Linked DNA regions of Homo sapiens. The protein of the gene in region 1 binds, or shares a complex with, the protein of each later gene. Each region holds a gene or a part of one and is shown in the gene's direction. Other genes may lie near its edges.

Evidence for each region.
Region 2: UPF3B (region 1) and EIF4A3 share a complex: the UniProt entries of both Homo sapiens proteins name them as parts of the mRNA splicing-dependent exon junction complex.
Region 3: the proteins of UPF3B (region 1) and UPF2 are in contact, whole or in part, in a crystal structure (PDB 7NWU), measured with the Homo sapiens proteins. Residues at the interface, in NP_542199.1 of Homo sapiens: Lys52, Arg56, Arg57, Tyr79, Glu81, Phe83, Asn85, Asp86, Thr87, Ser88, Leu89, Tyr90, His92, Tyr94, Arg96, Tyr98, Ile130, Glu132, Pro135, Phe136, Lys138, Ala139, Ala140, Arg147, Asp148, Lys150, Val151, Gly152, Thr153, Ile154; in NP_056357.1 of Homo sapiens: Lys767, Arg768, Pro769, Pro770, Leu771, Glu773, Tyr774, Lys777, Lys790, Arg793, Gln794, Arg796, Lys797, Leu798, Pro799, Trp800, Gln801, Cys811, Ile814, Asn815, Trp817, Tyr837, Gln838, Glu839, Asp840, Ile843, His844, Val846, Asp847, Gly848.

The regions. Positions count from the first base shown.
Region 1 is NC_000023.11:119,839,152-119,842,974, reverse strand, and holds part of UPF3B (regulator of nonsense transcripts 3B), read left to right. Parts: intron 1-1,196; coding exon 1,197-1,240; intron 1,241-1,716; coding exon 1,717-1,899; intron 1,900-2,290; coding exon 2,291-2,329; intron 2,330-3,823. UniProt on the Homo sapiens protein: Involved in nonsense-mediated decay (NMD) of mRNAs containing premature stop codons by associating with the nuclear exon junction complex (EJC) and serving as link between the EJC core and NMD machinery.
Region 2 is NC_000017.11:80,133,738-80,137,220, reverse strand, and holds the end of EIF4A3 (eukaryotic initiation factor 4A-III), read left to right. Parts: intron 1-885; coding exon 886-993; intron 994-1,089; coding exon 1,090-1,217; intron 1,218-1,714; coding exon 1,715-1,731; 3' UTR 1,732-2,852; downstream 2,853-3,483. UniProt on the Homo sapiens protein: ATP-dependent RNA helicase. Involved in pre-mRNA splicing as component of the spliceosome. Core component of the splicing-dependent multiprotein exon junction complex (EJC) deposited at splice junctions on mRNAs.
Region 3 is NC_000010.11:12,040,720-12,044,319, reverse strand, and holds the start of UPF2 (regulator of nonsense transcripts 2), read left to right. Parts: upstream 1-1,510; 5' UTR 1,511-1,565; intron 1,566-3,600. UniProt on the Homo sapiens protein: Involved in nonsense-mediated decay (NMD) of mRNAs containing premature stop codons by associating with the nuclear exon junction complex (EJC).

The DNA.
Region 1 (3,823 bases):
TATAAATACAAAAAGTTCGATGACTGATAAGGAATGTTTAGACAGTGGTAAGCCTTTGAAGGTCAATTGGTATTTTCTAGTAATAAGTTCATATTCCTAAAAAAATTTTGACTTGAAAATACGAAAAAATGAAATTAGTTACTGCAAAATTGAAAACTACTTGAGGAATTCTAGCTTGGATCTTGGTTCTCAGTAATAGGCTGTCACTACTGTATCAGTAGCTCTAAACATGAGCATAATCTTTGACCCAGGATTTCTACTCAGGAATTTATCCTAAGGAATATGTGGGGTTTTTTTGTTTGTTTGTTTGTTTTTTTTGCTTGCTTGCTCGCTCGCTCTCTCTCTGTGTGTGTGTGTGTGTGTGTGTGTATGTGTGTGTGTGTGTGTGTGTGTGAGAGATGGAGTCTTGCTCTGTCGCCCAGGCTGGAGTGCAGTGTCGCAATCTCGGCTCACTGCAACTTCCGCCTCCTGGGTTCAGGCGATTCTGCCGCAGTCTCCCGAGTAGCTGGAAGTACAGGTGTCCGCCACCACGCCCGGCCAATTTTGTATTTTTAGTAGAGCCGGGGTTTCACCATGTTGGCCAGGCTGATCTCGAACTCCTGACCTCAAGTGATCCGCCTGCCTTGGCCTCTGAAAGTGCTGGGATTACAGGCATGAGCCACTGTGCCCGGCCAGGAATATGTGTTTTAAGATGGCTGTAAGGCCAATAGCTTATTCAGAATGTTGAAAATGAAAAATATTCTTCCAAAACTTGACTTTTATTAATAGATGGATAGTACAAGCCTATTTCTGGTAACTTTCTTAGAATAAATTCCCAGAAGTGGAATTATGGGGTCAAAAGGATTAGATATTTTTAGCCCCTTCCCCCCAACTTCTTCCAGTTGAACAAGTTTACACTCCTATCAGTAAAACAAGAGAATGTCCTAAGTACTTAATTCTCATCAGTTGGGAATGACTCTTTTAATAAATTATTTTGTTGTTTTAATTTGAATTTCTTTACTTTTTAAAAGGTATTTTAATCCCGTATTGTTGAAATCGAATGCTGTAAAACTTCTTTCTGATATTACAATTGTGATCTTTCTGCATAAGGGGTGTACATGTTTTCCCACCTTGGGTGGTTGGCAGGGAATGTCAGAAAATGGAATCGTTTCTAGGGGTTGATAAGTATGATTAATAATCTGTTTACATTTATGTAGCTAAAAAGACAACCCCACTTTTGAGCTTCCTGAAAAACAAGCAGGTAAATCTTTTGTCTTTATAGTTCTCTCAATACTTTAATTTCTTTGCTTTGCATTCTATAAACATTTTAAGAGCATTGGGTTTCTAGAGGAGAAATAGCTGCTTTTTCCACCATTACTCTTTAAGGATTTGCCTTCTTGGTCTCACTCTCTAGCCTGCTCCTTCACTCTGGTTGTTGGACCAGGAGTTCACTCTACAAACGTGGAATGTTCTTAGGTTGTCCCAGAGACACTCATTTGATATTCTGAAAGCCTCTGGAGAGATAGTAAGGCAGCAGTGGAAGAATAATATTAGCAGGTTCTGGTCTTCATTGTCTTTCGTTTTCTGGGTGGAGTGGGGATAACGGTGGTAGAATGCCACTTTGTAGAAAGTAGGAAGGAAAGATTATTCAGTTGGGGCCTACCATGACTTCAGGATTTATTAGGGTTTTGGTGATGATTATTTTATTTGAAGGCTTGTGTTGATGTTTCTTTCTAGAGAATGAGAGAAGAAAAGAGAGAAGAAAGGAGGAGGAGAGAAATAGAAAGAAAAAGACAAAGAGAAGAAGAGAGGAGGAAATGGAAAGAAGAAGAGAAACGAAAAAGGAAAGATATAGAAAAGCTAAAGAAGATAGACAGAATTCCAGAAAGGGACAAATTAAAGGATGAACCAAAGATTAAGGTATAAGAATGTTGAAACTGACTGCATGTTGCTAAAAATTGCACGTATCTACTTCTTTAAATATGCATGCGTCTTGTGTTGGTGTAAATGAATTTTTTGTTTTGTTTTTGTTCTCTTTTGGGGGGAAGTGATCCAATAAAAATCTTTCCTGTAATAGTATTAGTTTTTAAATTTAAGATCATTTAAAAGGATAAAGTAGTATGTTATTTCTTCAGTGCAGATCTGTGCTGTTTTTGTCATTGAAAATGTTGGATTTTTAGACTATTGTCCTCTAAATTCATAGTAAATGAGGGCTTAGGGCTGGCTGGCATGATTTATGGTTTTTTTTCAGCTTTTTCTTCATAATTGATACATGAAGTTACCTCATCTGTTTGTTTTCCACTGTCTTCAGGTACACAGGTTTCTGTTACAAGCTGTGAATCAGAAAAATGTAAGGACCAAGTACATGATACAGAGCATCTAGTATCATGTCACACACACAGGTCTTAGCTAATAAGTCCTTTTGGTGGTGGTGGTGGTAGTGTTACTTGTTGAAAACCCCTTCAGGTTGACTTGAGTCTTCTTAAAAGCTGAGCTATTTTATTATAAATTTCTACTTTAAAAGGAAGCCCAGGTGACTTCCTGATGCTCTGCTGTGTGCCCAGAAGCTTCATTGACCTACAGCCAGAGGACAACCATGCCTATATAGTTCTTTCTCATCTTCTTATATGCTTCTCATAACTGGCTGCCTTGTGGGAGGACTAGGGATAAATACCCTGCAATATGTGCCTTTCCCTCTCACATGACTCCCGTAGTATCTTCCTGCATATATCTGGGAATCTGTGAGCAGCAGATTCGGATTCATGCATTGCATTTGGGAAGAAGAAAACCTGCAGAAAGATCCCAACCTTGCCACTTCCCTTCTAAGGGCATGGCTTGGGCAGCCCTTGTTTCAACATATTTCCTGGGGAAGTACTAGTACCTAGCACTTCAGATAAAGTCAAAGAAAATCTCACAGAGAGGGTGGCAGGGTCTCCTTATTTTATTTCCTGAAAACTCAGCAGTTTATGTAGCAAGGGTTCCCTAAGTCTCTACGGGGCTCATTACTGATGATGAGGGGCTTGGGGGAGGATGGAGTTTCTCATCTTAATTCTTTCCAGCAATCTCTCTGTCTGCTATGCCACAAGTGACTTGACTTGCTATTCCTAACAATCAGCAAGGCAGAAGGTAGAGCCAGCCATGCTAGAGACATTCATTAATGTTCTTATTAGAGTAATGAACACCTTGGTTTCTAATAAGGATGTTCATTGGAGAAATAAGAGCACTTCCAATGAAACCTGCACATGGTATCCTCATTTTACACTGGTGCCTTCTCAGTGTCCATTTTGGACTCACCATTTGCAGTGGCTGTCTGTGTGCCAAAATGCTTTGTGCTTATGTCTTGTGGTGCTTTGCCTTTTGCTTAGTAATTTACATGATGCCTTCACCCTGAGATGAACCTTGTGTGATACCTTCACTCTGAGACTTGAAATTCTTCTATTTTGCCTAAGAATCTCTCTGATTATCCGACACTTGGAGGTATTCTCGAGAGATTCATAGCAGCAATGTAAAAAACAATGGCATTTTTGAACATGCGTAAATATGGCATTAAATACAGAGTTCCTACTCAGTAGAGATGGAACTTCACTATTTGGTTGTATAAGGCCTTTAGATTTTTAAATCAAATGCCAAATAATTCTTGTTATTAATCTCTAATGGCAAGATAATTGTACCATCATAAGTATGTTATTCTCAGGCTCAAGGCAAAATTATTCCTGCAATGGATCTCTCCTTTGGTGACCAAGGTATTTGTCATTCCAAGTACTACATAAAAACAGTCCCAACAGAAACGATCTGCCTATCACTTAAAATTTGTGGGCTGTTTCCCATTAAGTTATATCAACAT
Region 2 (3,483 bases), on another chromosome or scaffold:
TCCGCTGTGCTCCTGTAATACTTAGGTTGAGGTGATAACTAGCCTTAACTAGCCAGGTTGGTCACCTTGGTTACAAGCGTGTGTCTTCTTTTCCAGTAAGTAGGGGGGTTTTCTGTTCATCGTTTCGATTAGTTTAATTCCACAGTGGTCAGAAAGCGTGGATTGGGTGGTTTCATTCATTTGAACTTGATTCAGACTTCCTTCTTTGCCCACCTTGTGGTCAGCTTAACATATGTGCTGTGTGTGTCTTTTTTTGTTTGTTTGTTTTTGAGACAGTCTCACTTCGTTACCCAGGCCGGAGTGCAGTGGCACAATCTTGGCTCACTGCAACCTCTGCCTCCTGATTTCAAGTGACTCCTGTGTCTCAGCCTCCCGAGTAGCTGGAATGGCTAATTTTTTTTTTTTTTTTTCATTTTTAGTAGAGATGGGGTTTCACCATGTTGGCCAGGCTGGTCTCGAACTCCTGACCTCAGGTGATCCATCTGCCTCAGCCTCTGGCAGTGCTGGGATTACAGGCATAAGCCGCCGCCATGCCCGGCTGAAGTTACCGTTTTTAATTTTTTGCTAGGCAAAAGTGAAGTATTTTTCCCAATTATTGGTTTAGGACCGATTAAACAAGTTAAAGATAGTCTAGTAAAAGATGTCTATTTTTTTAATCTGATGGAGCACATGACCGAAGTAACTAAATCCACCAACAGCCCCTCTGCACAGGGGTTTCTGGTGCTGTCCCTGAGGCTTCACGTTTGCAGACAGACTGTTGAGAGAGGAGAATCTCGTATATTTTGGACCTGCAGCCAGGATTCCTTAAAATTAGCAATGGAAGCAAGTCCAGTCTTACACTTGTATGAGTAATTTAATCGCCTCAAACACTCTTTCTTTTTGCAGCCGAGTGCTTATTTCTACAGATGTCTGGGCCAGGGGGTTGGATGTCCCTCAGGTGTCCCTCATCATTAACTATGATCTCCCTAATAACAGAGAATTGTACATACACAGGTAAGGTGCAAGCTCTCATTGGCTTCACTTCTGTGACACATTTACTAAATCTTGATTGTTATATATACTAACTGTAATATTATTTTATTCCTGAAGAATTGGGAGATCAGGTCGATACGGCCGGAAGGGTGTGGCCATTAACTTTGTAAAGAATGACGACATCCGCATCCTCAGAGATATCGAGCAGTACTATTCCACTCAGATTGATGAGATGCCGATGAACGGTAGGAAATCGTCCAGCTCTACTGTAATTGTAGAGGGAACTTCCCTATTCTTAGTTTGGGGCACCTGAGTTTGTTTTTTTGTTGTTGTGGGTTTTTTTGTTTTGTTTTTGAGACGAAGTTTCGCTCTGTCACCCAGGCTGGAGTGCAGTGGCGCGATTTCGGCTCACTGCAACCTCTGCCTCCTGGGTTCAAGCAATTCTCCTGCCTCAGCCTCCTGAGTAGCTGGAATTACAGACACGTGCACCATAGCCAGCTAATTTTTGTATTTTTAGTAGAGACGGGGTTTCACCATGTTGGCCAGGCTGGTCTCGAACTCCTGGCCTCAAATGATCTGCCCACCTCAGCCTCCCAAAGTGCTGGGATTACAGGCGTGAGCCACTATGTCTGGCCTGTTTTTTGTTTTGAGAAGTCTGTTGTGAGGTTTTAGTTAAATTTACGTTAACAAATTTTCATTTTGTTTGTGTTGTTCCTTAATCTGTTTCTTTCTTCACTTTCAGTTGCTGATCTTATCTGAAGCAGCAGATCAGTGGGATGAGGGAGACTGTTCACCTGCTGTGTACTCCTGTTTGGAAGTATTTAGATCCAGATTCTACTTAATGGGGTTTATATGGACTTTCTTCTCATAAATGGCCTGCCGTCTCCCTTCCTTTGAAGAGGATATGGGGATTCTGCTCTCTTTTCTTATTTACATGTAAATAATACATTGTTCTAAGTCTTTTTCATTAAAAATTTAAAACTTTTCCCATAAACTCTATACTTCTAAGGTGCCACCACCTTCTCTAGTAACTTACTGTGTAGTCTTGGGTCATTTCACTCACTTTTCTTTTTTTCTTTTCTTTTTCTTTTTTTTTTTTGAGACAGTCTCCCTCTGTTGCCCAGGCAGGAGCGCAGTGGCGTGATCTCCTCTCACCGCAAGCTCCACTTCCTGGGTTCATGCCATTCTCCTACCTCAGCCTCCCACGTAGCTGGGAGTACAGGCGGCCGCCACCATGCCAGGCTAATTTTTTTGTATTTTCAGTAGAGACGGGGTTTCACCGTGTTAGCCAAGATGGTCTCGATCTCCTGACCTCGTGATCCACCCACCTCGGCCTCCCAAAGTGCTGGGATTACAGGCGTGAGCCACTGCACCCGGCCCATTTCACTCACTTTTCTAATCTTTTTTTTTGGAAAGAGTTTCATCGTTGATGAGTTTTGCTCTGCTGCCCAGGCTGAAGAGCAGTGGCACCATCACAACTCATTGCAGCCACAACCTCCTGGGCTCAAGCGATCCTCTCACCTCACCCTCCTGAGTAGCTGGGACTACAGGTGCATGCCAGCACATCTGGCTAATATTTAAATTTTTTGTAGAGACAGGGTCTCACTTTGTGGCCTAGGCTGGTCTGTCACTCATGGGTTTAAGTGATTCTCCCATCTTGGCCTTACAAAGTGCTGGGATAACAGGTGTGAGCCACCATGCCTGGCCTCATTTTTCTAATTTTTTTTTTTTGTTGTTTTTTTGAGAGCCCAGGATCTCCCTGTCGCCCAGGCAGGAGTATAGTGGCAGGATCATGACTTACCACAATGTTGACAAACTAAAACAGATAATTATCTGTTTAAATATTTAAATTATTAAAGTATTTAAGTTATCTGTTGAAATATTTAAAGTAATTACCTGTAGCTTTATAGGCACACAGCACCACAGCTGCCCAATTTTTAATTTTTTAAATGTTTTTAAAGACAGGGTCTCCCTCTGTTGACCAGGCTGGTCTTAAACTCCTGACTTCAAGCAGTCCTCCCGCCTCAGCCTCTCAAAGTGCTGGGATTACACACATGAGCCACAGACCGGGCTCTAATATTTGAAATGGAAATGTTAAAACTGGCCCCTCCCTTCCTGAAATTAGTTGGGATGATAATCTTTATTTCCGGGTTAGGGTGAGCTTGGAAATAATTTTTAAATTTCATCAGGTGATTCTACTTGAAGGCATCTGAAATTCTATAGTTTATGAATGGAACTTCCTTTCACTGAAACTGTGACTGGACCCTTGCTAGCCAGCTGGTGGCTGGTAGACCAGCTGCATCATCAGGAGTTGGTTAGAAATGCAAGTGCTCGGGCCCTGTCCTGGCTTGCTGAGTGAGAACCTGCAGGTAACAAGACTCCCAGGTGGCACTGCTGGCCGAGCGGGAGGAGCACGAGACTACAGGCCCAGGCAGCTTAATGAGTTCCTGGCAAGGAGGAACCAGATACAGGTGTGTTCAGGGCATTTGCTCAGCAGCAGTGGGGAGTGAT
Region 3 (3,600 bases), on another chromosome or scaffold:
CGCCCGCCTCGGCTTCCCAAAGTGCTGGGATTACAGGCGTGAGCCACCGTGCCCGGCCTTCATCTTTCTCTTTCACTATCCTTTAAATGACTGACCTATGTGTAGTGTATAAAAAATATATATTTTTAAATACAGGAAGCAGCAACACTCAGTATGAGAGGATAATTTGCGTGCTAAGAGTAAATGGGGAAGCAAACAGTAAATAGAGGCAAATGGGCAAAGGTTGAGTCATAGGGAACCTGGACTTGCCTCAAGTATTTGTGGTTGGTAGTAGTTCATTACGTGGGCTTGGGCACCAGGTGGGGCCCCCTCAAGTCAAGCAAACGTCAAGACCAGTTTCGCACCCTTGTTCCTCTAGCTCCGGACCAGCCAGAGCCACCTACTCGGATCATGTTGGCAGAACCCAGTACTGTTTCGAGGCCAGATGCACCATTTCAGCAATTCAGGAGGAAATAAGCAGTGTGGATAAACTGATACCCATTTTTGAAAGTCGGCCTGGGTTCGCATTCAGAAGAAATGTCGACGCTAGCCATTTTTTTTTTAAAATGGGTGATTTGATAACTCAGGGAAGTCTTGCCACTGTAATTTTTAAAAGTTTGCTTGCTAGAACCAGGTACTTTCTAAGAAGTGTATGGAAAAAGCCTTGATTCTTCTTCGCCCTGGGTGGTTTTTACGTCGAACACCTAGAAGTGCTTCTGGAAATCCCCCCGCAGGACTTTCGATGTCTTTTAGGGCATTCTTAAGACTAGACCCATTCCTAAGCGACTCCCACCTCCCAAACCAGCCATATGGTTTAGTTTCTCCAGTTTCCAATTTTCTAAATCTTCAACGTCTCCCCTCGAATTAGTCCAATCAAACTTTCTCTTCTTAGACCTCTTCCTTAGGTTCGCACCAGGAAACGCCCAGGAGAATCACGTGGCCGGGCTTGTCCTTAATGGCGCTCCGTAACCCTCCCACTATTCCACCACACTTCCTCGCCTCCCGTGAGCTCCGCCCCGCCCCATTCGCGCTTCCCACCCCCATCCCCCGCGAAGCGCCTGCGCCTGCGCAGCTCCAATTCAGGCGCTTTCCCTTTCCTGGCGACCAATCCACTTCCTGCCTCGGGTCCTCGGAACACTCCACCCCTCCGCTGGGGCCCTGGTTTGAGGTGCTGGTAGTGGCTACCTTACGTATTGCCAGTCTGAAAAATTCGCTCTTCTCATCGACTGGGGAATTTGAAAGAGCTGTTAAGTGAATGGCACTCATATGAGCCTTTGCCCCGGACCCGCCACCCCAGAGTCAAGCTGAGGGCATCGGCATGCCGCAGGGAAGACGATCAGGACTGTTTTTAATCGGGCAGTCGCGCGGATGGCCTTTTCCCTCTCGCCTCCTTCCGCCCCGCCCCCACTCTCAGCCCGGCCGCGCTGGTGAGTGGCGGGCGGGAGGGCTGGCGGGCGGAGGGAGGAGGGGGAGCTGAGGGAAGGCGGGCCCTCGGCTGCGAGATAGGTGGGGGGAGGGGAGGGGAGAGCCCGAGCGCTGGAGTTGGTGCTGGGAAACCCGGGGCTAATGTTGACAACAGGCTCGAGGTGAGTCCCGGGGATCCTCCTTCCCCTCCGCTCCAACGATCGGGAGGAAATGGGGCTGGGGGGCACCGGCCTAGACTCCTACTCCCTGGGGGACCCCAGAGGCGACTCCACACTCCAGCTCTCCGGGGTCGGCGAGCAGTGGAGGGACCGCGGGTCCGGCGTCGTTCTCCTCAGACCCCCTGTCTCCGAGGCTCCCATCAACGCGGGAGCCCCCGGGCCGGGCCATGCTTGGGGGGCGGTGGAGGAGGTGCCTGCCCCACATGCCTGGGCCGGGCCTCGAGACTGGAGGCGGGGAGCCCGCGGTGGAGGGGCGAAAGTGTTCGGGGGCGTGGAGGAGAGCGAGGGGAGGTCGGGGGAAGCTCCTCGAGAGCCGGGAGGGAAGCGAGGGCGAGAAAGTGGGGAGGGCGCGTGTGTGGGAGGCTGCGGAGTGGGGAGACCGGCCGGGAAGGCTTCTGTGGCGAGGGAGTGTGGGGCGAGAAGTTGGGGTTGGGGCAGCGATGGTCCGCGAAGGTGACCGTGGATACCTGTGGGAAGGGGAGTTGTGTCGGGGAAGTGTGGTGGGTTTAGAGGTTCCTACACCACCAGAGCAGGGGTTTGTAGGAGAGGTATGTGTAGGGGAAGGGGCTTGGGGTGTATCTGGGGATGGTGGGCATGGGCTGTTTGGTTGACTTCCTTTTAATCACATAGGCTGGTTGATTCTTCACTTTACCTTCACCTCTTCAAGGCGCCAAGCACTCTCTTCTTGCTAGGACTGTTGGACTAAGGAAGTGATCACAGGATATTTGGTCCCCAGGTTGGCAGAGCAGAGCCAGCTGGGTCCACGCTGGGGTGATCGGACCTTCAGCTCTCTTGCTCATCTTAGAGGACTTACACGACACGAAACGATGCATCAGATCAAAGTGAAACCCTCGCTGACGCTTTATCTCATTTCCATAGTTCTTAGGTGTTCCTTAACATCGTCAGTCTCCTCATTTGTGAGCTGGTACAATTTCTAACAGTTCTTAATACGTCCTTTATACTAAGGATGTTCTTTAAAAAATAAAGTCAGAAACTGGGAGATAGTGTTCCTGTGCTGTTCTGTCCTGACAGCATTTTGAATAAGAGAATTGAAAGGTAAAACCGCATTCTCTCATACTGGAGTGTTTTCGGAGCACTCTGATTGGGATTTCATACATAATCCATATGGTACTTTGCAAGGGAATGTCTTTAAAAGGGAAACACCCCCTTTTGTGCCCTCTTCCCCCCAATACACTCCATTGGTACTTCTAGTAAATTAGTTTTACTTTCTTTTGGAAGTTCAGAATGTATTTAGAATACCAAATAAAATATACAGTTCAAGTGACAGGACACTATTTTGGGAGCTAGGAAGGTGGTTTTAAAGCATGGTTTCCTTTTAAGGGTAGTCTGAATATAATTGTATTCAGCAAACTAATTTGTAACAGCTAATCGGATTCCAGTGAAAAGATCACGACTTTTTCTCCTCACTATCTTGAGAAAGGACCTATTTAAAATTGTATTTGGACTTGAAAAACTTTTGGAAACACTTTAGATGAAAAGTTTGGCTGTTAAAGCTTGAAGTTATTGAAATAAGAATTTTAGCATTTTATTAAATATCACTTAGTGCTCAGTTTTTTAAGTCGACATAAAACAAACGTGTATTGAGGTGAATCACGGTGTTTGTATATTTTATTCGTTTTAGTGTAGGTAGTGAAAAAGCACTGGGTAGTGAGTGTTGGTCCAGCCACGGAAACTAGCTGTATATATAATCTTGGGTAGGTGACTCTGCTGCTATCCTTGGAATGTAAAAATTGAGGATAGAAGTAGATAAAATCTAATAGTCTTTATCTGACTTTACAAATCTTTCATTGTATGCTGAACTTCTCAGTGTTCTTTGTGACAGAACATTTATTAATGCCTCCCTCATGCTAGTTACTATGCTAGAATTTTAAGAACTCTACAAGATAGATAGCAGTATATCCATCTTATTGATAAATAAGTGGACTCAGAGAAGTTGTTGCCTGATTTCTGTAGCTAT